Homo sapiens: one gene and its partner. The main gene of each other region encodes a partner of the protein of the gene in region 2 in a complex. Links are inferred from orthologs where the notes say so. Each region holds a gene or a part of one and is shown on either strand. Other genes may lie near its edges.

Region 1 (11,104 bases), on a different chromosome or scaffold from region 2:
TTGGGGGGAAGGGAAATCTCGGCATTAGAACCCCCGCTGCCTGCTGCCCAGTCATGCTCTGCCTTCACGGAACACAGGCTGTAGATTCCAGGGACACGGAACTCAGGCCAGCCCCGACACGTGGCGACGCTGCCGGCCCCTTGGCAGCCACCCCGGGCACACGAGGGCGAGCGGCACCTTGTGCTGTGGATGCTTCCTTCCACGTAGTGTCCCCAAACCGGGTCATGGGACAGCGCCATTCCTACTTTAGCAAAAAGGACACTGAGGCCCAGAGAAGGCACGCCACCTGTCCACCATCACACAGCCACGAGGTGGACTCAAGTCCAAGTCCCCTGGCCCCCTGTGCACCTTCTGGCCCGATAGAGCTTCCAGTCCTACTGTGGGTGAGGGGTGCTCCTGATCAGAATTGGAGGTGGGCATGGAGGGGAGGCCAATGCCCGCTGCGATGCCATCCAGGAGGATGCCCCGAGAGGCTCATGAGGGCCGTGATGGGGTGGGGCCCCCAAGCTGGGTAGGGTGGGCAGAAGAGAGCCTGCACCAGGCCCTGGGGGCAGGCAAGGAGAAGGCCGTCATGCTGTCTGCTGGCTGGCTCACTCAGTGCCAGGCAGTCGCTCCCTGTCCCCGTGGTCCACCCCTCCCTGTGAAGGGCTCAGCCGGCACAGCCCCAGCTCTCACGAAAGGCCAGGCTCTCTAATCCTGAGCTTACAGACAGCTGGCAGTGGCCACGGGACAATGAGTCCCCCGACTATAAAAAACCACATTACGGAAGGAGTGGAGCCGGCCCCGCATTCCATGCGGCGTCTGCGGAGCGTCACTCACCCCGAAGACACGGTCAACCGGGCAAGGCCTGGAGCACAGCCCACCGCCAGCCTCGGGCTCCCACGTGCCCACGCGACACCCTCGCCAGCCACCCCCATCATCCATGCCAGCAGAGCTGACATCAGTGGCCCTGGAGGAAGATGCCCATCTCCAATGCTGGTCTGCCAAGGTCTTGGGCCATGGCCTCCCAGGACACCGCACGACTAGGCTCTCGCTGGGCCTCCCTGGGTTCATGCTCCACCCCCGCTCCCACCCAGCCCCCCCCGGTCTTGGGAATGCTCAAAGCTCCCTCTGCACACCAGGTCTGCCTGCCATCTCCACTCAGGAGGCTGCCGTCCCCACCCTCCACACCCCTACATCTCCACTCAGGAGGCTGCCGTCCCCACCCTCCACACCCCTACATCTCCACTCAGGAGGCTGCCGTCCCCACCCTCCACACCCCTACATCTCCACTCAGGAGGCTGCCGTCCCCACCCTCCACACCCCTACATCTCCACTCAGGAGGCTGCCACCCCCACCCTCCACACCCCTGGCCACCTAGAACACCCCAGACCTTTCCAGACTCAGGCCACATAACGACACCTTTCATGATGCTTTTCTTGGCCTCTGGCCCCCTTCAGTCCCCTGACCCCGACAGCCCCTCTGTGGTGCTCTCACGGACGCCTCCTCTGGGGTTCAGCCCCACCTGCTGCCGTCCCGGCTGCCAGGCTGAGCACCTTGCCGGCAGGGAGCACAAGCCGTCTGTGGTCTCAGTGTCCACCCAAGCGCCCATAACCAGGAGACCCCCAGTGCTCGGCCTTGGGTGGAAAGACATAGGTGAGAGGCTGCTGACCGCCCCCCTGCCCCTTCCCCAAGACAGGGTGCGCATGTTTCCTGTTTGCCTGTGTGTTTGGGGAAAGGGGGGAGAACAGGGCCTGCCCCATTTTGCTATATCACACAGGTGTGACTGCAGCAAAGCCGGCCACTCTGTTTCCCCTATCCCTGCCCTCAGAGGCCGCTCCTTCTCCAGAGGCTGGTCCACTCCCTCCCTGGAATCGAAGCCAGCCAGTGATGGCTCTGGCATAAAGTGGCATGAGGGATGCTCTCCCAGCCCTGCCCCAAGACCGTCAGAGGCCTGGCAGCTTCTGCTCTCTTGGAACCTATTGAGAAGCCCAAGGTGTCCTATCGGAGGGTGAGGTTCCTGGAGGGAAACTGAGGCAACCCAGCCAACAGCCGGCACAGTGCTTTCCTGGGCCTTTGGGCCCCACCATAGCCAAATGCCACTGCCCGAGGGACCCCAGGCAGCACCTCATGGGGCAGAGATGAGCTGTCCTCACTGAGCCCCGTCCAGATCCCTGGCCCACAGAATTGCCAGCCAGGGAACAGCCGCCAGCCGCTAGGTGTGGCAGGGTAAATAGGAGTTAGCTCAGCTGTTAGAGGGTAAGCGGTGGAGGGGGGTGAAAAGGGCACGTCAGACATCTTTGAGCACAAACGGGTGTCCCAAAGGGCTGTATAGGAGCCCTGTTGTGGGGGATAGGAGGCGTGAGGGTAAGAGGAAAGAGCATGGAAGACGCAGAGAAGCAGGACAGAGTCAGCAGAACACAAGCAGAAGGCCAGGAGCTGCGGGGCTCAGGGCGGCGCCAACTCTGGACAGAGGCTGGGGTTGCTGAGCGGCAGGCAAACCTCACCCACGTTACAGACGCACCTGCTTCCTGAGAAACACGTCTCCAGTGAAAAAGCTGTTGCACTAACTCCAGGACTCACCGGCTTGAGAAAGAAAATGCTCCTCCACGCAGACATTTAATGAGCCAATTAGATCTAAGATGGTTTCCATCTGAATATTCTTGAGTGCCCTCGTGGCTGCCCCTTGATGTCAGAATCTTAAGTGCTCATAATCCCAGCTCCTCAGAGAACAAACATCGGGGTGACCAGGGTGTCCTGGATGGCTCATGCCAGGTAGGCATGGGCAGGACTGAGAAGTCTTGATAACATGACCCTCAGCCCTCTCCATCCCCCAAGGTGGCAGCTTCTTGTACACTTGGGAGTGGCCCCACCTAGTGGGTCTCGGGTGGAGGAAGGCCTGGAGCCTGGCAGTGGGTGTTGGCTCCCACCCCTCCTCTGCCCTCCTGAAGCAGCCCCAGTCCAGGGGCACCACTCTAGAAGGCCCCCCCTTCCCGGGCCGGCCCTCCTCCCCTTGTCCATCACCACCTTGTTAACATTCCTGCAATCCACAGGGTTCCCATCCCCCAACCAGGCAGCTGCTGCCTGGGGCAGCCTCGCCCTCCATCTTCTGGACCTCAATCAGAACCTTCTCTGGCCCCTGCCAGCCTCTTCCTCCAAGCTCATCTGCACCCCGGGGTCAACATTAGCATATAAAACACTCCCCATGCTCAAGCACCTTCAATGGCTCCCTGCTGCTCCGAGACAATGGTGCAAACAAACACTGGTCCAATTAGCCAGCTCTCTACAACCCAGCCCTGTCTCCTCCTCCTCCTCCACCCTCACGCCTCCTATCCCCCCCAACAGGGCTCCTACACAGCCCTTCGGGACACCCATTCGTGCTCAAAGATGTCTGAAGTGCCCTTTTCACCCCCCTCCACCCCTTACCCTCTGACAGCTGAGCTAACTCCTATTCACCCTGCAGAAGTCCCCTGAGGCTCGCCCCTCCAGAGAGCTTCCCCGCAGTGCCCCCAGCCTGGGGTCTGTGCCCCTCCTGGCTCCCCTCGCACCCTCTGAGGACTGAAAATGCCTCACTCAGTCTCACGCAGCCTCTGAGGCCGGACCGTCTGATCCCTAGGCCCAGCGCCCGGCAATGAGAAACTGCTGAAGGCGCTCCCTGCTGCCTGACAGAGGCCAGGGTTCCAGCCAGCTCTGTCCAGGCTGCCCCCGCAGGCTGCAGTGGCCAAAGGTGGCCGGCAGGGGGCTCTCCAGAGCTGGGCAGATGCCGCGTTCATGTAGCAAGAGCCTCCTAGTTCAGGTTTTCATTCTTTACTCTTCTTTTTTTGAGACAGAGCCTGGCTCTGTTGCCTTGGCTGGACTGCAATGGCGGGATCTCAGCTCACTGCAACCTCCAACTCCCAGGTTCAAGTGATTTTCCCACCTCAGCCTCTGGAGTAGCTGGGATTACAGGCACCTGCTACCACACCTGCCTAATTTTTGTATTTTTAGTAGAGATGGGGTTTCACCATGTTGACCAGGCTGATCTCGAACTCCTGACCTCAGGTGATCCTCCCACCTCCGCCTCCCAAAGTGCTGGGATTACAGACATGAGCCACTGTGCCTGGCCACATTCTTAATCATTTTTAAAAGTCAAAATGAGTTTCAAATGCTCCGGGCGGCCCCCAGAGGCTGGGCAAAGAGGCAGATATGGTCCTTGGACTGGACCCAGCTGGAGAGAGCAGGTAAGGGGGGAAAAAGGGGGCACCTCCAAAAGCTTCCATTCACCCTCAAGGCCCAGCTCAAACGTCCCCCTGCGCCTCCAAAGCCCTCCCTTCCTAGGCTCTGGGTGGGCTCACCCTCTCTGGGGCCCACCACCGTCTGTGCTGCAAGCTGAGCCTGTCCCAGGGCGAGTGGCCCTCTCTGCATCACTCTCCACCACGCACAGTCCATCCCCGAAGGCGGGGCCCAGTCACTTGCCCGTGTGTGAGGCTGGAGCCTGCAGACCTGAGCTGTCCACAGACCGTCGCCTGCCATGTGCCAAGTGCGCTCGGGCCAAGCTCCAGGAGTCCACACTACAGGCCCGTGACCAACAGAGACGGGGAATTGGGCCACACTGGGGACCCGGGGGTTGCTGTCACCAAGCCACCTCCTGTCCCATTCTGAACAGGCAGCTGTCCACAGAGAGACCTCTGCCCCCCAGGCACCAAGACCAGCCAGGCCTGTCTCCACCCGACCCCCACCAGGGCCCCCGTGATGCACAGCCACGCCCAGTGTCTCAGGATGAGTGAGGCGCAGCCATCGCCTTGGGCCAGGGTCACCCTCTCTGCTCTCTGCAGAGCTGGCTGTGGCGGGGCCAAGTGAGGCGGTTCTGGGGATCGGGGGCCAGGCTAGGACCTGTCCCTGGGGAAGGAGGGAATGTGGATTTCCTACACCCAAGAACTTCCAGGGCCTTCCCACGACTCCAGCCCAGCTGTGACCTCCAGACTGAATGTGACGACACCCACAGACTTATTGGGATTCAGATTCTGGATATTTCTCCGTCCCAGTGGCCCCAGTTGTCGGCCAAATGGTGGCCCACAAAATGTGTTCACATACCAGGGCCTGTGAACAGGAGCCTCTGCGGATGGAATTGATGGTCTCGGGATGGGGTCACCCTGGGTCATCCAGGTGGGCCCTAAGTCCACAGACTGCAAGAGACTGAAGAGGAGGCTCACGCAGGAGCCAGCAGGCGCAGGGACTGGAGTGGCACAGCCACGAGCCGAGGCCGCCGGGGCCACCAGCGGCTGGAAGGGGCAGGAAGGACCTTCCCATGGGTCCTCCCCAAGAGCTTTTGGAAAAAGCCAACCCTGAGGACCCCTTGATTTGGGGTTTCTGGCCTCCAGGCTGCAGAAGGAACCCGTTCTGGACACTTGGCCCTCTCTTGGGGGTCATCTGCTACAGAAGCCCCAGGAAGCTGATGCCGCTGCCCCTGGACCACCCGAGTTGCCGGCTCCCTCCCGCAGGAGGCCCCAGGCTGCCCACACGTGCCGCAGACTCCCCGTCCCTCCAGCCAGACGGCCTGCACTCAGTGCTGCGTTGAGAACACCACCGCTTGGCCGAGTCTAAGACCCAGCCTAAACCACCCAGGGTGGTGGCCACGCCTGTCTCCAGGAGGATACAGCCCAGCAGGGCCTGCTGGGGACAGGGATGGGTGGCTCGGCCAAGCCTTCCAGCCTGGCCTCCAGAACCCACCTACCCTACGGGGTGTGCAGCCGTCGGTGACCGAATTCCCAGAGCCCTTCCTCTCTCAGGCCAGGGTACCACCGGGGACGAGAACATTCAGCACTGAGCTGCAAAGGCGGGTTCTGTGGGGCCAGCCCCCGTTTGCGGGTTCTGTGGGGCCAGCCCAGTCTGCAGGTTTGTGGGTTCTGTGGGGCCAGCCCGGTTTGCAGGTTTTCAGGTTCTGTGGGGCCAGCCTGGTTTGCAGGTTTGCGGGTGGGGCTGCTCTAACAGCTTGCCCCGGAGAGGCAGCAGCAAGACAGACGGCCCCACAAGAGTGCCCCCAGCTTTTGAGCAGCCCAGGAAAACGGCACAGTAGCCTCGCCCTGGGGAGAAGCACAGCCCCAGGTGTGGGATTGTTTACCAGCGGAAAAGGGGCCACCCACACCTCGGCAGGGATGTGAACCTCCACGGCCTCAGAGGAAAAACATCCAGTGTCCCCATTCCATTATGGCCCAGACAAAATAAGCAGGTCTCCAAGGAAACGGGTCCTCCTGCTGTGCCCCGGCTTAGAGGGTGAGCACGCGGCGCCACCCCGGCCGGCTGCCTGCCCGTGCCAAGGAATTCCACAGACAGAAAGGAAGGTATGGGTCCCCCTCCTCCAGGCACCCCCAAACCTAGCACACAACAGACAGGACAGGCTGCCTGTGTCAGGACAACTACAGCCTGCAGCTCTGGCTTCCCACACGACAAAGGACAGGGACGCTGGGCCCACCCACTGTGCCCAGCCACCGCCAACCCACTCCCCAGTGGCTCCCGAAGCCCCAGTACTGAACCTCTGGCCTGCCGCAGGGAGGGCCTGGGGGCAGATGGGACCCCGACAGGTGTCCTAGCTCTCCCGGGAACCACCCCCCACCCCACCCCCCGCACCAGCTCACAGCTGGCATAGGCAGCGGCCCTGCCCATCCATACTGGCTCTCCAATCCCAGAGGGGCCAAGGCCCTTTGGACTCTGGCTATGGCCCCTGCCAGCCCCAGGGGCCGAGACTCCGGGCCAGCTCTGCCGCACGTGCCTCCTGCAGCTGGCTGTGTACGCCCCCAGTCCGTGGAGCCTGAGCCTCACTGCCCTGTTCCCCTTTCAAGGGTCAGATGTCGTCTCCTCAAAGGCCCCAACAGGGCTGGCTCCTGCCACAAGACCTACTGGGTTTGCTCCCAGCGCCCAGCGCAGAAGGTGGCAGAACGTGGCACCCAGATGGGCTTGCGCCCGTGCCCCAGCTGGCCTTTGCAGGATGAGGTCCCAGGCGGCCAGTGTGGCCCGTGTCCTTGCCTGCGTTTCCTCCACCCAGACACATCCAGGCTCCACCAGAGCCCCCACCAGTGTGAGCCAAGTGCAGTCCCTCAGTCCTCTCAGCCCCAAACCAGGCCCACAGGAGGTCCCTCTGCCCGCCTTCAGCCCGGCCAATGAGCAGCTGCCCCTCCAGAGAGAAGAGAGGAGGCGTCACACCCTCCGCGGGGACTGCAGGTCCACAGGGCAACCTGGCGCATCTGCACCCAACATGGGAGAAAGTGGAGGGGGTTGCTGGAACAACCTGCTCCTGCACAGCCCCGGCGGGCACCTCAGACTCTCTGGGCAGGGCTGGGTGCCTTCCTGCTCCGATTTCCCTCACTCCCCTGGCTGAGTGAGGACAGCTCTCAGGCCTTCACAGGCCCAGAGGACTCAGGCCATCCCCACCCACGGCCTGGCCACCTCACTGGGGACATTAGGGCAGCTCTGGGCGGCCCACAGGCGGGGTGGCTGGCATGTCCACCAGGAATTCTTGGTCCAAGAATATGTTTCTGCGGTGCTTATGCGGGAGCTCACACTCCCCACTGCTAAATGCGTTTGTTCTTTGTTTTTTCCTTTCCATGAAATCTGGATATGAGCGGCTCTGAGGCTCTGTGGCCTCAGGCCCCTCCTCGCATCCCTGAACTCTCTCCCTCCAGTGAGGAAGAGCAGAGGTAGCCGAGGCCCCTCCTCGACACTCCACACTGAGGTTCCTGCGGGCAGAGGACCTTGGACATCGAGCGTGGGGAGACTCCGTCCACCTGCCGGCGCATTCTGGAAATGCCAGCAGGCCAGCCTGCAAGTGGGGTCGGCCGGCCCGAAGCCAGCAGTTCTCAGGGGAAGTGGGGGGTGCTGCTGCTGCCCAGTGACCCCACACATCCGTACTTACAGTACCCACACCTGGTCCCGCCTTCAAAGATGAATCCGCTTGGCACGGCCCCGTAGCGCCGGAGGTCAGACAGCTTCCACTGCCCCGTGACAGCCGGGGGGATGTCCCTGGCCAAGACGAGGACATCATTGCAGAGGTGCAGGGTAGCCGGGCCGCTCTCCAACTTGGTGCCTGGAGCCACTGTCACATGGAACCTATGCACTGCGGGCAGGCGGGGCAAGAGGGCATCACGGGCGGGCAGGGTGAGAGGACATCACGGGCGGGTGGGGTGAGAGGGCATCACGGGCGGGTGGGGTGAGAGGGCATCACGGGCAGGCGGGGCGAGAGGGCATCATGGGCGGGTGAGGTGAGAGGGCATCGAGGGTGGGCGGGGCGAGAGGGCATCACGGTCAGGCGGGGCGAGAGGGCATCATGAGAGGAGGCAACAGGGGCCACTGTGGACAGGTGGGGTGAGAGGGCATCTCGGGAGGAGGCAGCAGGGGCAGGGGCCAGGCTGGGGCAGGTGGGGGCAGCCGCCCAGGTGTCAGCCGGGGAGGCAGCGACGGCAGGATGAGCAAATGGCACTCCTCACAGCCACGAGGGGGCCTGGGGGCTGCACTTCTCTCCTTGCCATCCTCCCAGGAACTATCTTTGTTCAGGGGCAAGGAAGTCCCAGAGGGGCCTGACCTCGGACCTCCACCTCCCTCCCCTCCCACCACGGAGGTGCTAGGGAGGACAGGGCAGCTGAGTGCCCTGGCTGGGCTCCCACCCCCGGCACCTCTCCAGGAAGGCTCTCTCTCCACAGCTGTGTGGCTCCATCACAGAAGGGGAAACCGAGGCTCAGGGATCCCCCAGCCTCCAGTTCGGGTGTGGAGAGTCTGGAGTCTGTATCGAGGCCCCAGCCTGGCCACGGGAACCTCAGGGCACCACCGGCCCTCTCTCCATCCAGGTGGCCATTCACCCAAACCCTGAGCACCCCCATGGTCCTGTGCACTGGCTCTGCCCAGGCCCCTGCCCCTGAAAGCCTCAGAGAGGACAGTGGTCCTGAATGCTGTCCCCACCTCCCCTGTCTTCCCAGGTCAGCACACCAGGCAGACAGCAGCCTCCCCACCAGGGGCCCCACCTGCTCCATCTCCAACCCCCAGAGCCAAAGGGACCCCTGTTCCCATCCCACCTCCCCCTTCTCTGCCTCCTCTACCTGCTCCAAGCTGTGGCCTCAGGCGCATCCTTGTCAGGCCACGTTCTATCAAGATGAAGCTGCCTGGGCGGTGCCCAGCGGCCTCTGTGCCATGGCCCTGCGCCAGCGGATGAAGGAAGCAGACCCATGCCGCTGAGCCAGGCTGGAGGGAACCCCCAACGGGAGAACTTTCTGGAAAGATGCAGTTCTTCCCTCCTAATGTCTCCTTCCCCTGCGCCCTCCTGCAGAGCCAACCGCACCTCCTCCCACTAAGCCCCCAGCTTCTCTCTCCCCACTCAATGGAGCAGGAGGGGCTGCTGCCTTGGGGACAAGACTGGGGGAGCGGGACACTCACCTCCAAGGCCAAAGAACTCAGCCATCAAGGGCCAGGATATTTTAATCAATATTTTAAAAAGTAAAGTTATGCAGAGTCCATGCTGATCAAAATAGCAAGTTTTTTTGTGTTTGTTTTTTTGAGACAGGGTCTCACTCTGTCGCCCAGGCTAGAGGGCAGTGGCACAACCTCAGGTCACCGCAACCTCCACCTCCCAGCTCTTTTTTTTTTGAGATGGAGTCCTACTCTGTTGCCCAGGCTGGAGTGCAATGGCGCGATCTCAGCTCATTGCAACCTCTGCCTCCCAGGTTCAAGCGATTCTCCTGTCTCAGCCTCCTGAGTAGCTGGGATTACATGTGCCCACCACCACACCAGGCTAATTTTTCCATTTTTAGTAGAGATGGGGCTTCGCTATGTTGGCCAGGCTGGTCTCGAAGTCCTGACCTCAGGTGATCTGCCCGCCTTGGCCTCCCAAAGCACAAGGTTTACAGGCATGAGCCACTGCACCTGGCCATCATTTTTGTATTTTTAGTAGAGACGAGGTTTCGCCACGTTGCCCAGGGTGGTCTGGTCTCTATCTCCTGGGCTCAGGTGATCCACCCACCTCAGCCTCCCGAAGTACTGGAATTACAGGTATGAGCCACCGTGCCCAGCCTAAAATAGCAAGTTTTTAAAGGGAGGGCAGCTGTGGCTGCTGGGATTATTGGGTGGGTGCCAGGGTAGGACCAGGACTCAACTCAGTGGACATTCTACTGTTTTGCTCATTATGGGGTTTTGGCACTGATTTTGGTTTCTTAGGAGATGCAGGATTATGCTTGCTCTGCCGCTGAGTGCCCAGGGCCCCATCACCACCCACCTCTGCTCACAGCCCCAGGGCAGCTCAGCCCCCAGAGGCCCCCAGGCACCCATTCGAAGCCCCTGCAGGGCTGGGACTGACGTTCCACCTCTTCCAGGGCCAGTTCCACAGGGGAGCACTCCCTTCCCCTCCCTCTCCCCTCCCTCTATTCCCTCCCTCCCTCCCATCCTGTTTTGGGGGGAAGCTGGGGTGGGACCGCCCAGCCTGGGGCTCTCCTTCCTAGCCAGGCTCTGGGCTCCACTGTCCAGTGTAGGAAGCAAAGGGCAGGGCTTTGGGAAGCCACGTCCCTCCAAAGGCCACCAGCTTGGGTTAAAGGCTCCAGTTGTAACTAACGGTCAGGCTAGGGAGCTCTAAAGACACCATAGCCCAGCAGACTCCCCCTCCCAAACCCTCGTGGGCACCCCCAGGCTGGAGCTCAGTCCACCCTAAGGCACCCATGAATGTCCCATCTTCCTGCACGGTTCCCTGGAGCCGCTCCCACCTCTGCAGCCCACGTTGGTGAGGGGCCCCGGCACACCTGAACGGGGAGCCCCCGCCCGGCCCCGGCCCCCGTCACTCACCCTCGCCGAGCGCATAGCGGATCCGGGCATCCCACGCACACATGGCCTCGTGGCTGTCAAAGCCCAGCATGATGGCCTGGGACAGGCAGACAATGGCCAGCGTGTGGACCAGGCCCTCGTAGGGCAGGCCGGGCTCCAGCCCGCAGATGTCCTCTAGCGTCAGGCTGCTGCGCTCCCGCAGGCCCTTGATACGCTCCGACTTGTCCTTGTAGACCAGCATCAGCAGGCAGTCTGCAAGGAGCGTGGCCGTCAGGGACGCCAGCCAACACCGCCTGCCCGCACCCTTGGCGTCCCCGGGGAGGCCGTGACAGTGCAGAGACCCGGGCTGGGG
Region 2 (11,410 bases):
AGACTGATTTATAGTATGGTGGGCTTGGGTTTTACTTGAAGAAGTAAGGGTGAAATGTATGATGAGGGAGGAAATTATATACATAAGCAATTGGTTGATGGTCTCTCTACCAATATTTTACTCCGAAGTTCTGCAATAAAAGGCTTAGCCACATAGTGCATGCAGAGCTCTGACTTCTAGGGCAAAACATAAGCATGTACACTGCAAGTTATCAAGGTCTATTTTGTTTATGCGAATGTCAAATTTCAGGGTGGTCTAAGTGGATGATGACAACCTTTTCGCATCAGGTTTGCCAGGAATAGAATCAACCCCATTCTCAGACATCCAGAGCATTTGCTTCTGAATAAAAATCACTTTTATTTTCAGTTTTAGCTTTGCCAAACTCTTAATAAATATTTTAGTTGCTAAAAATTGGAAATACAGAAAGACGTACACAATTTGCCTGTGTAACAAACCCGGAAGACAATGGATTTTAAATAACTTTGAGGCTGGAGTCATGATTTGGCTTGGCAAGAGACTGCAAAAGTTTTTTTCAGAGCCTTTGGAATGTACCGGAAATAACACCACCTCAGGGGAAAGGAAAGCAACTTAAGAAACTGACAAACACCTGTTGCAGTAGCAAGAATGTCCAGTGATATAGTTTCTGGCCAGTGTATTATGAAACTGGGACTAGCGTATTTGAAATCAGAAAGACTGGAAAGTCTGTGATTTGCAAAGTGACTAAGGGTATCACTGAAATCTTTTTTTAAAAAGACATGAGAAAGCAGATCGAGTGGTATCAATACAAGAGTTTTCAAATTTAATGTTATACCATAGAGTAAAAAGAGATTTTTGCTTCAGGACATGTTCAAATTAATCATTTTCCCTTTATATTAATCAAAGCACTGAAACAGTTTGTATTGTGTAGATAAATGAAGGTGGTATCTGTATATAGATGCAAAATGTATCTTTAGATTTTCTGGTTCACTAAAAATTCTGGAGCCATAAGGTCAAAGTTCACATGCAAATAAGATGCGGGTTTCTTCACAAACAATCTGATTTCACAGATTTTTTTGTTTCATTTTGTTGCTTCTCTTTTTCCATTTTACTTGAGTATAATGGTATCTTCAAATGTATTTAAACATTTAATTTCTAATGAATACTTTAAGGCATCTACAGATAAAAGAGACTCTAGATCTTTTCAAACAGCTAATAATAGTCAGAAAGACTTAACATTGGCTTCAGATTATTTTAATACTTCCTGATCAAACAACGGATGTCCGGTAAGGCCCCACCTGGATGTTTGAACGTATGGGTTGTCTTAAGTATTATTTGTATATTTCTAAACCACGCAGTTACATAAAAATGATAGGGTTAAATACTAAAATACAGTCTTATAAAGAGCAGGACAATTGATTTTGATGATTCAAATAAGGATTTGTTGTACACACACACAAAACCCCCAAAATCTCTCTATCTGAATAAGTCTTAATTTATATTCTAGAAAGAATTGATTTTCATTTCCAAACTTTACAAATAAAGCCCTTAATTCAAATGCACACTATCTCTATTTTGAAAATATTGAAATATAGTGGCATAGAGATAACAAAGCCAAACACCCTGACTTTTAAATAAACTAACCAGATCATTCACCCAATTTCATTTCTTATAATTTATTTACTACTAGAATTAGGTTTTAAAATCAAAAAATTTAAGCAATTTTTTCTCAGTCTATTGTACTGTAAAATCTAAATTAGTATGAGTTTAACATCACTCTTAGCCAAAATACCATGTCTAGGAGAACAAACATTTATTTACTACATACAGCAGTTCTGAGAATAACTAATATCATGAAAGCATAATCCTTAAAATTTTAAATGTTGAAGGGTGAGGAATACATTGGTAGAAAAGAACCACAATAAAATTTTATTATTTTCATTATTATTATTATTATTTGAGACAGAGTCTCGTTCTGTTGCCAGGCTGCAGTGCAGTGGTGTGATCTCAGCTCACTGCAACCTCCTCCTCCCAGGTTCAAGCTATACTCCTGCCTCAGACTCGCAAATACCTGGGACTACAGGTGCAAGCCACCACACTCGGCTAATTTTTATATTTTTAGTAGAGACAGGGTTTCACCATGTTGGCCAAGATGGTCTCCATCTCTTGACCTCGTGATCTGCCTGCCTCGGCCTCCCAAAGTGCTGGGATTACAGGCATGAGCCACTGCGCCAGCCATTATACTACTGAAACTAATAAAAATGGCCCACCCAAACTATTTCTACTATTTCTAGAAAACTACTGTTTTCCCTATTCTTGGCAGACGGTAATAACAAAAAGAGTTTTTTAGATAATATACTTCTTCCTAAGTCCTTTATCATGAATGCATAAAGGAAATTGTACAATATGTATTAGCTAATAAATTGACATATTTAAAATAACACAAAAGTATTCAGTGGATTATTTTCTGACTTTCTGCACATCATTTTTTGATAAAAATTAATATCCAACTTTGTAGAATTAATTGTTCATAGTTTTCATTTTAGTTTAATTAAGGCTACTAATGCCCAATGATAAGGGGAAGAATCATTGTCTTTCTGAATCATTTCAACTAGTGATATTTTCAATGATGAATTCAGTGCCATAACCCAAGTAGTAGAATTTCACAAACTGTCATTTATGAAAGTAGCCAATGTTCCACTGGATAATTGGCTTAACTACATACATCAATAACATTTAATGCTTTATTAGGGAGTATTAAATGTATGGTGCAATGTTAGATTCTGCAGGAGCATAAGAGTTCATGTAAGCAGCTCTGGATTTGCTTAATATGCACAAAGAACTATCAAAAGTCTCACTTTCAAAACACCCGACTTACTACAATACGTTGAAGTGTTTGAGCGTACGTGATTTTATCTTTAGATAGATTTGAATAACCTCCTCTTTTAAATTGTATGTATATAAGGATAGGATTCACAGATTTGACATATGACTAAGTCATGACTGACACAGCTGTCATTGAAATCCAGGACACACAGTCCTGGATGAATATTTTATATTGACATGCATTGAAAGAGTTACTCATTGCATGTTTGAGTAAACAGAGTTGCTTCAAATATTATTGACCTTAAAGAAAAGAAGGAAGGAGCAGAAATTTCAAGATCTCTTTAAACTCTACCTTATTTCCAAAGGTAAATGAAGTAGGCAGCTTCTCAGTGAAATAAAACCTGATGTCGTTGAAGGAGAGTAACAAGTGAGGGGTGGAAAGAGGGCCTGAAAGGAGTGGCTCTATTCAGGAAGATGAGAGGATCACATGGGCCATGCTGAAGACCCAGCTGGGGCTAGGAACTGCAGCTTTCTTTATAGTGCCCCTGACCTGAACATTTACTGCACTATACCCAGCAGTGCTATGTGAACATAGGGTAGGGAGGACAGATGGCTGGATTAATTCAGGATTGGCACTTTCCAGGGTCAGTACAGCTAAAGAACTAGAGAGTAAAGGAGTTGGAGTTATATGGCAGCGTACCATGAGATACAGATTGGATCAGGAAGAAAGTAAAACAAGGATATTTAATGCTTGGAAGAGAAGGTTAAAAAGTTTAAACCAACCCCAAAGTGTTTTGTTGTACTAAAAAAAAAATACTGCATTCATAATGTTAGAGAAACATGAATATTTTCCAAGTCAGAGCCCTAATTTTACTAAAATAGAAAGGAGCAAATACACCTTGTTTCTTTATGTACCCAATCATTGGGTCATGTCAATCCAAAAATAATCAATCAAAAGTTGGTAAGTCAATAGTCATATGCGAGAGCCCATAAAATACAAAGGAAAGGTAATGTCATGTCCTTCTCATCAAGCAGTTGATATCCAAGTCAAGCTTTTCTTCGGGTCCAGAAAAGGATTGTGTTCATTTTCATGTATTTGTTATTCATGTAGTCCTTGGATTGAGAGAAGAAATAGTGCCCTAGTTTAAACGAGCTCTGGCTGAGATGAAAGCTGGATAGTAGAATGAAAGTAAACAAGAGACAGTGTGCTGAGTCAACAAATATCATTAAATACAACTGATCCATGTGATTGTGTCAGTGAAAACCGGAAAGCAGATTTGGATAACTGGAAATATGGACAATGTGGACTTGGCATTCTGTGTGTAGAAACTGATATTGATGTACATCTTCTCTTATCCATCTGTGCATAATCAGTATGATCTTGAAGATGCAGTATGTCTTAGAGAAAGGAAGTATAAACCAACTTTAACCCTGAAGTTCAGCTAGTTCAGCTCTATCACTTCCTATTTTTGTGATATGTAGACAAGTTGTGCAACCATTTTTAGTCCCCATTTCTGGTCTGCAAGTGGAAATATTAATAGTATCTACCTTTTTTGTGTTAAATAAAAAGATAATGAATAAAAAGTATAATGCATGGCACATACCAGATTCTTAATCACTTTTAGATGCTAATATTAGTAAAAACAGTCAAACTTCACACAAGACTGTTATGTCACTGAATCTTATGGGAAGGTGTTAACTTAATAAAGTTCTTAGTAACACCTTCCATATTTCTCCATGTCTATTTTCCAAGACATTCTAAGACTCACTTCTTTGATCTTAACTGATCTCAACAGTTCATGTGACATCTCCAGTGTGTCACCTCATTGGAAAGATAACATTAATAGTAAGTCTATTACCTCTGCCACTTCTGCATCTGTGTATTGAGTGAAAATAACACTAGTGCATAAAGTTTCTCTCTTATAAAAGTAGCACATGGTATTTAAGATTGATTTTGAAAATGCAAAATACATAAAGTTTAAGACAGAAGAAGTCATCCATACTTCCAGGACTATTAACACATTGGCATATTTTCTTCCATTTTTTTCTACATATTTTTAAAGTCCTTATTAACATTGTGCTGCCTGCTATTTTTACTTAGCACTAAAGCATGAGCATATTCTATATTATTAGTAATCTTCCAAACGTCATGTGTGGTGACTAAATAATATTCTGTTTAGATAACAGTGTGCTAGTATATGTTTAATATTCACCTCACTGAGAAAAAAAAAGACGTGGATTTGTTGCTCTTGTTTATTTCTGCAGTAAAATACTCTATAGTAAAAAACTCTATTGTGTCTGTGGCCAGTCTCAAGCTACTATCAAATAATGAGCACTGAGTTGGGAAATAGCATGTGTAGTAGCATCCTTCATATATTATTTCTACCACACAGACACATTACAGATAACCTCAAGAACTTATATAATAATAAAATGTAGTTAAATCATTGGGAATTTCAAGTATTAATACTTTGTTTTTAATATATTTGATTATAAATGTATACAACTTAGTTTTTAATAATGATTGTATATAACAATCACCTCTCAAAATTCCTAAAAAATTACCAAGTGGCTCTTGCAAACCTGCGGAAGACAAAACTTGTGTGCCTCAATCTTCTCCCACTTGACTACGATTAATAGAATTTAGTACAATTGATCTGTTTTCTGCAGTAAAAGTCACCTATATGCCTTTCTATATGTGAGATTATTTCCTTAGGATAGATTCCCAGAGATGATGATGATGATGATGATGATATTATTATTATTTTAGAGATAGAGTCTTGCTCTGTCACACAGGCTGGAGTACAGAGGTGCAATCACAGCTCACTGAAACTTTGAACTCCTAGGCTCAGTTGATCCTCCCACCTCAGCTTCTTCCCAAGTAGCTGGGATTACAAAGTGTGTGCCACCATGCCGGCTAATTTTTAAATTTTTTGTAGAGATGTGGTTTCTCTGTGCTGCCCAGCCTGGTCTCAAACTCCTAGGCTCAAGTGATCCTCCCACCTCGGCCTCAAAAGTGCTGGGATTACAGACATGAGCCACCAACCACACCCAGCCTGAGATAAAATATTAACGGTATAATACATTTGAATGTAATAAAGACAAGGAAAACAATCAAACAGCCTGGGTTTCTTTTTCTAAATTATAGAATCAAGTAACATTTGCACAGTGCTCCATGTGGACCAAGGACAATTTTAAATGGTTTCCATTTATTTATTCCTTGTGACAAGTTATGTGGAGGCTATACATTATCTCCGTCTATAGCTGAGACACTGAGGTTAAGTGTGGTTAAGTGACTTGCAGAGTCGGTAAGTGATGGAGCTGGGATGTGAATTCAAGTCCTGTGCCACATTGCCTCTTTTTTTTTTTTTTTTTTTTTTTTGAGACAGAGTCTTGCACTGTCGCCCAGGCTGGAGTGCAGTGTCGCGATCTCAGCTCATTACAAGCTCCGCCTCCCTGGTTCACGCCATTCTCCTGCCTCAGCCTCCCGAGTTGCTGGGACTACAGGCACCCGCCACCACGCCCGGCTAATTTTTTGTATTTTTAGTAGAGATGGGGTTTCACCCTGTTAGCCAGGATGGTCTCGATCTCCTGACCTCGTGATCCGCCCGCCTCGGCCTCTCAAAGTGCTAGGATTACAGGCGTGAGCCACCGTGCCTGGCCGCTACATTGCCTCTTAATGTGTAGTTGCTCAATAGTCTTCCCTTTTTTTTTTTTTTTTTTTTTTTTTGGGACTGAGTCTCACTCTGTTGCCCAGGCTGGAGTGCAGCGGTGCGGTCTCGGCTCACTGCAATCTCCACCTCCTGGGTTCAAGTGATTCTCCTGCCTCAGCCTCCCGAGTAGCTGGGATTACAGGCCTGCACCACCACACCCAGCTAATTTTTGTATTTTTAGTAGAGATGGGATTTCACCATGTTGGCCAGGAATCTCTTGAACTCGTGGTCCTCCCCGCCTCGGCCTCCCAAAGTGCTCGGATTACAGGCGTGAGCCACCGCACCTGGCCTAGTCTTTCTTTTTAAACAGTAAAAGCATTCAACATCATCAATTAACCTTTGGGCTCATTGTTAACCACACTCCACAAGCTTAATAAAATATTGTTTTTGTTCTTTATCTCTCAATATCTAGATGATTATACTATTAATTGCTTATTTCATTCATTCGTTGTTTAGAAAATAACTTTTTATTGAGATTGACTTTCTCAAACTTTATGAATTATAAGTTTGCCTCCATTGCATTTTGAAAATTAACACTTCTTTGGCATTCTATCTGCTACAATTTTTTTCTATTATGAAAGCAATATGTATTCATTTTTTTAAAAAATCCTGTAAGATACAGAAAAACAAAAATATAAAATTACACATAATGCTCATAGCAAGGGATAAGTGCTCTTAGCATTTTGCTATTCATTCTTTCAGTCTCTTTCTCTCATATATGTGTGTGTGTATATGTAAGTGTATATATGTTGTATATATACACATACACACACATATATTATATATTATATATTATATATGTGTGTGTATGTGTATGTAATTTTATTTTGTAAATTTTAAGTTCCGGGGTACAAGTGCAGGATGTGCAGTTTTGTTACATAGGTAAACGTGTGCCATGGTGGTTTGCTGCACCTGTCACCCATCACCTAAATAACTGGGCTCAGCATGTATTAGCTATTTTTCATAATGCTCTCCCTCCCCCAATCCCACCTGCTGACAGGCCCCAGTGTGTGTTGTTCCCTTCCCTGTGTCCATGTGTTCTCATTGTTCAGTTCCCACTTATAAGTGAAAACGTGGTGTTTGCTTTTCTGTTCCTGCATTAGTTTGCTGAAGAGAATGGCTTCCAGCTCTATCCATGTCCCTGCAAAGGACATAATCTCATTCCTTTTTATGGCTGCATAGTATTCCATGGTGTATATGTATCACATTTTCTTTATCCAGTCTATCATTGATGGTCACTTGGGTTGCTTCCATGTCTTTGCTATTGTGAATAGTGCTGCAGTGAACATAGGTGTGCATGTATCTTTACAAATTTCAGAGGCTGTTATTTCATTGAGGAAAGAGAAGCATTTAAATAAGAAGCTCTCTCTTCAGCTGCCTACCAGCAAAGGGGAAAAACCTACCTCTCTGCATCCATCTTGTCCTCCTTCTCCCTCACTGTGCTTTAAGAGGACTTTCTCTTCCTATCCGTGGTTAACCCGTCTTTCTTCCTCTGAGCCCCACATAAATCTGCTTTCTCAGGGACCTATTTCCCTCAATTATCTCCTGTCTTTCTCCAATGTCCTACATTTTTGCTTCTACTAGGTGCTTCCAGTCAGCATTTAAACCCACTCTTGTCACCATACTCACCTCCAGCACCATGCAGCCCCTTTCTTCCCTTTTATTGTTAAACTCTGCTGCAAAAAGATGTCTTCCCTCTCCTCTTAGTTTCCACTTCCTTATCACAACCTAACCCCCACCACTGCAATCTGGCTTCCGCCAAATCTGCAAGCACCAAAATCAACATGACCTCCTCATCAGGAAACTCAGTGGGCACTTTTAGGTCCTTATTTAACTTAACGTCTCGGCAGCATTTGATTCTCCCTCTTTTGTGAAACGTGTGCTACTCTTGGGCTCTGCCAATAGCCTCCACTGGCTTTGCTTACAACTCTGATTTCTTCCTCTCAGTCTCTTTTCTAAACTCTTCATTCTCCCACCCATCTTTTATAAATGTTTGTGTTTTCTTCTAATTGGCTTAGGGCACCAGCCTCCCTCCGTCTTCAGGCTTTCACGGGTACCGTTTCCTCTGCCTGGAACACTCTTCTCTCTCCACTGCACCAAGCCAAATTTGAATCATCCTGTGAATGTGTGTGAATGTATTGTGTAGTTTTTTTTTATTCCTAGTTTTATCAAGTTCAGTGGTTGAGAAACATTATTTATCATGTTAAAGAAATACTATTATATTCCGACTCTACTAATGGTTTTCAAGTAGGGAATGGATAGTTAACTCTGTTACTGCCTTTTTGACTGTGATAGGTATCTTTTAAACTATGACTATAGTAAATCCTGTTTAAAGGACTTTTCTATTAAATTATCCTTATATTTTTGCAAGGATTTTTTTTCTGCCTAAATGCATAGTAATAATTTTGAAATTTATGATTTAATTTAATTTGCTTTTTAAAATTTTACTTTAGGGCTTTACATCCTGCTTGACTTACATTAGCATTGTTTTATTCCAAAGATTGATTTGAGAAGCTTTCTATACTTTATATTCCCTATAGCTTTTGTTTGTTTGTTTTTGAGACAAGGTCTTTCTCTGTCACCCAGGCTGGAGTGCAGTGGTGCAATCACAGCTCACTGCAGCCTTGACCTCCTGGGCTCAAGTGATCCTCCTGCCTCAGGCTCCCAAGTAGCTGGGACTACAGATGTGTGCCACCTGTACCCGGCTAATTTTTTTATTTTTGTATTTTTTGTAGAGATGCAGTCTTGCCATGTTGCCCAGGCTGGTCTCAAAACACCTGGATCCTTCAGTGGATCCTTCTGGGCTCAATGGATCATCCTGCCTCAGCCTCCCAAAGTGTTGAGATTACAGGTATGAGCCACTGCACCTGGCTCCTTGTAGCTTTTATGTAACTGGAGACTTAATTCTTTCTTAAGAGTTTTTTAAAACTTATCTGAAAAACTTTGGGGCATTATATTTTTTTCAGAAGTGTTCTTTGCTAATCTAATCTTTTTCTTCTGTGAGTATTGTTGATGATTTTACCCCACCCTTTACTACATGTGAACAATTTTGTTTTTAAAATTCTTAATTCTTTAGATTTTCATCTTTAAATATTCATTACTGTTTAGCTCTGTTGAATTGTGGTCCAAGAATGTGACATATAATCTGTTTTTAAAATTTATTTAAGCTTTAATTTTCATGGGCATTTGAAAATATGTGTCATCTATCAGGGCTTACAGTTGATGTGCATATCTGTTTAATTAATTTTACTAATTCTGCTATTCTGTTTTACTACATATATAATTATATTTTTGTCTTTTGATCTATAAACAGGATTGGGATTTTTTGTTTTTTTGCTATCTTTTTATTGTCTATTTCTTACAGATTTTATTATGGTTAGAAAATATAGACTATATAAAATCAATTCTTTGAGCTGGGTTAAAATCTCCTATGTAGCTTGGTATATTTTCTTTATGTTTGAATGTTTCATCTATGCATCATTTACAAAATGTATTCTGTAATTGTTTCATTGTTTTATAAATGTACATTATATCTAGTGTTAATTTTGATGTTTATATCTTCTATATCTTTACTGTAGTTCTGTTTGATATATTAGTGTCTGAAGGAGATCTCTTAAAGGGTTACACTATGTTAAAACATTTCTCCATGTACTCTTGTGATAATTTTACTTTTGGGTTTGAGTCCATATTTTTAAATAATTAAGTTTCATGATTGTCATATCTTTTTAGGGCTTGTTCCTTTTATCATTAAGCAATGTTTCTTTTTTTCTTATAAATGCATATGCCCCTATATTACATTTTTCTTATATTACTATTGCTATGTCACTTTCTTTGGGATATCGTTTGCTTTATACATATTTTCCCTCCCCTTTATTTTTAACATTTCTGTTTTATTTTATTTAAGTGTGTCTTTTGTGTTTGATAGCATCTGTCATTTCATAGGTCAGCTTATACCATTGGCACTTACTGTGATTTCTGGTATATTTGGACTTGTTTCTTCCATATTATTTTATGTCTTCTGTTAACCATGCTTTTTCTTGGCTTATTTATTCCTCCTCTTCTTCCTGTTTGTTTTTGCTTTTGTTTTTGATTGATAAAGCCTTTCTGGTACCTCTTTTTTTCTCTGTTGTTTTGGAATTTTTGAATTTTATTTATTTTTTAGTAGTAACCATTAATAAGGTTTTAACATAATCATTTAACCATAGATGCTTCTTTCTGTTTGAAGTTATTCAATATTTCTGTCCTCTTGTTTATGGCAAAGAGCTTAGCATTTTTTAATTACTTAGCATTTTAAACTTCTTTCCTGAACTTTGATCTTATAGTTGTTTGTCTAGAATTTAATTCCACTCTTTTTAAACACAAAAATTTGTGATTTTTTAATATTCCATAGTGTGTTAAAATTGCAATGGTATTTCACCACCATTTATGCTATTGTTTTTTATAACTCACCCCTTTCTTTCTGGTATAAATTATTCCTTAGTGAGTTTATTTACTCTAGTAACTATTTCAGAGAAAGTCTGTGAGTGGTAAACACTCTCAATATTTGTTTATAAGTGTTCTGAGTTTAAAATTATTACCTAAGCTAGCTGTGTAATTCTAAGCTAACAGTTATTTTTACGCAGTCATGTAAAGGTATTAGCCTATTGCCTTTTGGTATCAATTGTTGTTGCTGAATAATCTCAGGTTACCCAAAATTGGCATTCCTATTAAGGAATTAAACTTTTTCTTTCTGGTAGAGTTTAAGATTTTATTTATCTTTAATTTTTACAGTTTTAATTCAATGTGTCCAAGTATGAATTTCTTTCTTTTTTTCTTTTTTTTTTTTTCTTCTGAGACAGAGTCTCCCTCTATCACTCAGGCTGGAGTGCAGTGGTGCGATCTCAGCTCACTGCAGC

The links.
Region 1: the proteins of MUSK (region 2) and DOK7 are in contact, whole or in part, in a crystal structure (PDB 3ML4), measured with the Mus musculus proteins. The link is inferred for Homo sapiens from one-to-one orthologs. Residues at the interface, in NP_035074.2 of Mus musculus: Leu547, His548, Pro549, Asn550, Pro551, Met552, Tyr553, Gln554, Arg555; in NP_001335203.1 of Mus musculus: Leu154, Ser155, Asp156, Leu157, Arg158, Arg159, Tyr160, Gly161, Gly172, Thr173, Arg174, Ser193, Asp197, Val200, Arg201.

What each region holds. Positions count from the first base shown.
Region 1 is NC_000004.12:3,473,306-3,484,409, reverse strand, and holds part of DOK7 (protein Dok-7), read right to left. Parts: intron 11,005-11,104; coding exon 10,774-11,004; intron 9,471-10,773; exon of another isoform or gene 8,652-9,470; intron 8,110-8,651; exon of another isoform or gene 8,069-8,109; coding exon 7,868-8,068; exon of another isoform or gene 1,995-7,867; coding exon of another isoform or gene 960-1,994; exon of another isoform or gene 503-959; intron 1-502. Other genes in the region: vegetative cell wall protein gp1-like, read left to right, coding at 960-1,994. UniProt on the Homo sapiens protein: Probable muscle-intrinsic activator of MUSK that plays an essential role in neuromuscular synaptogenesis. Acts in aneural activation of MUSK and subsequent acetylcholine receptor (AchR) clustering in myotubes. Induces autophosphorylation of MUSK.
Region 2 is NC_000009.12:110,669,056-110,680,465, forward strand, and holds part of MUSK (muscle, skeletal receptor tyrosine-protein kinase isoform 1 precursor), read left to right. Parts: intron 1-11,410.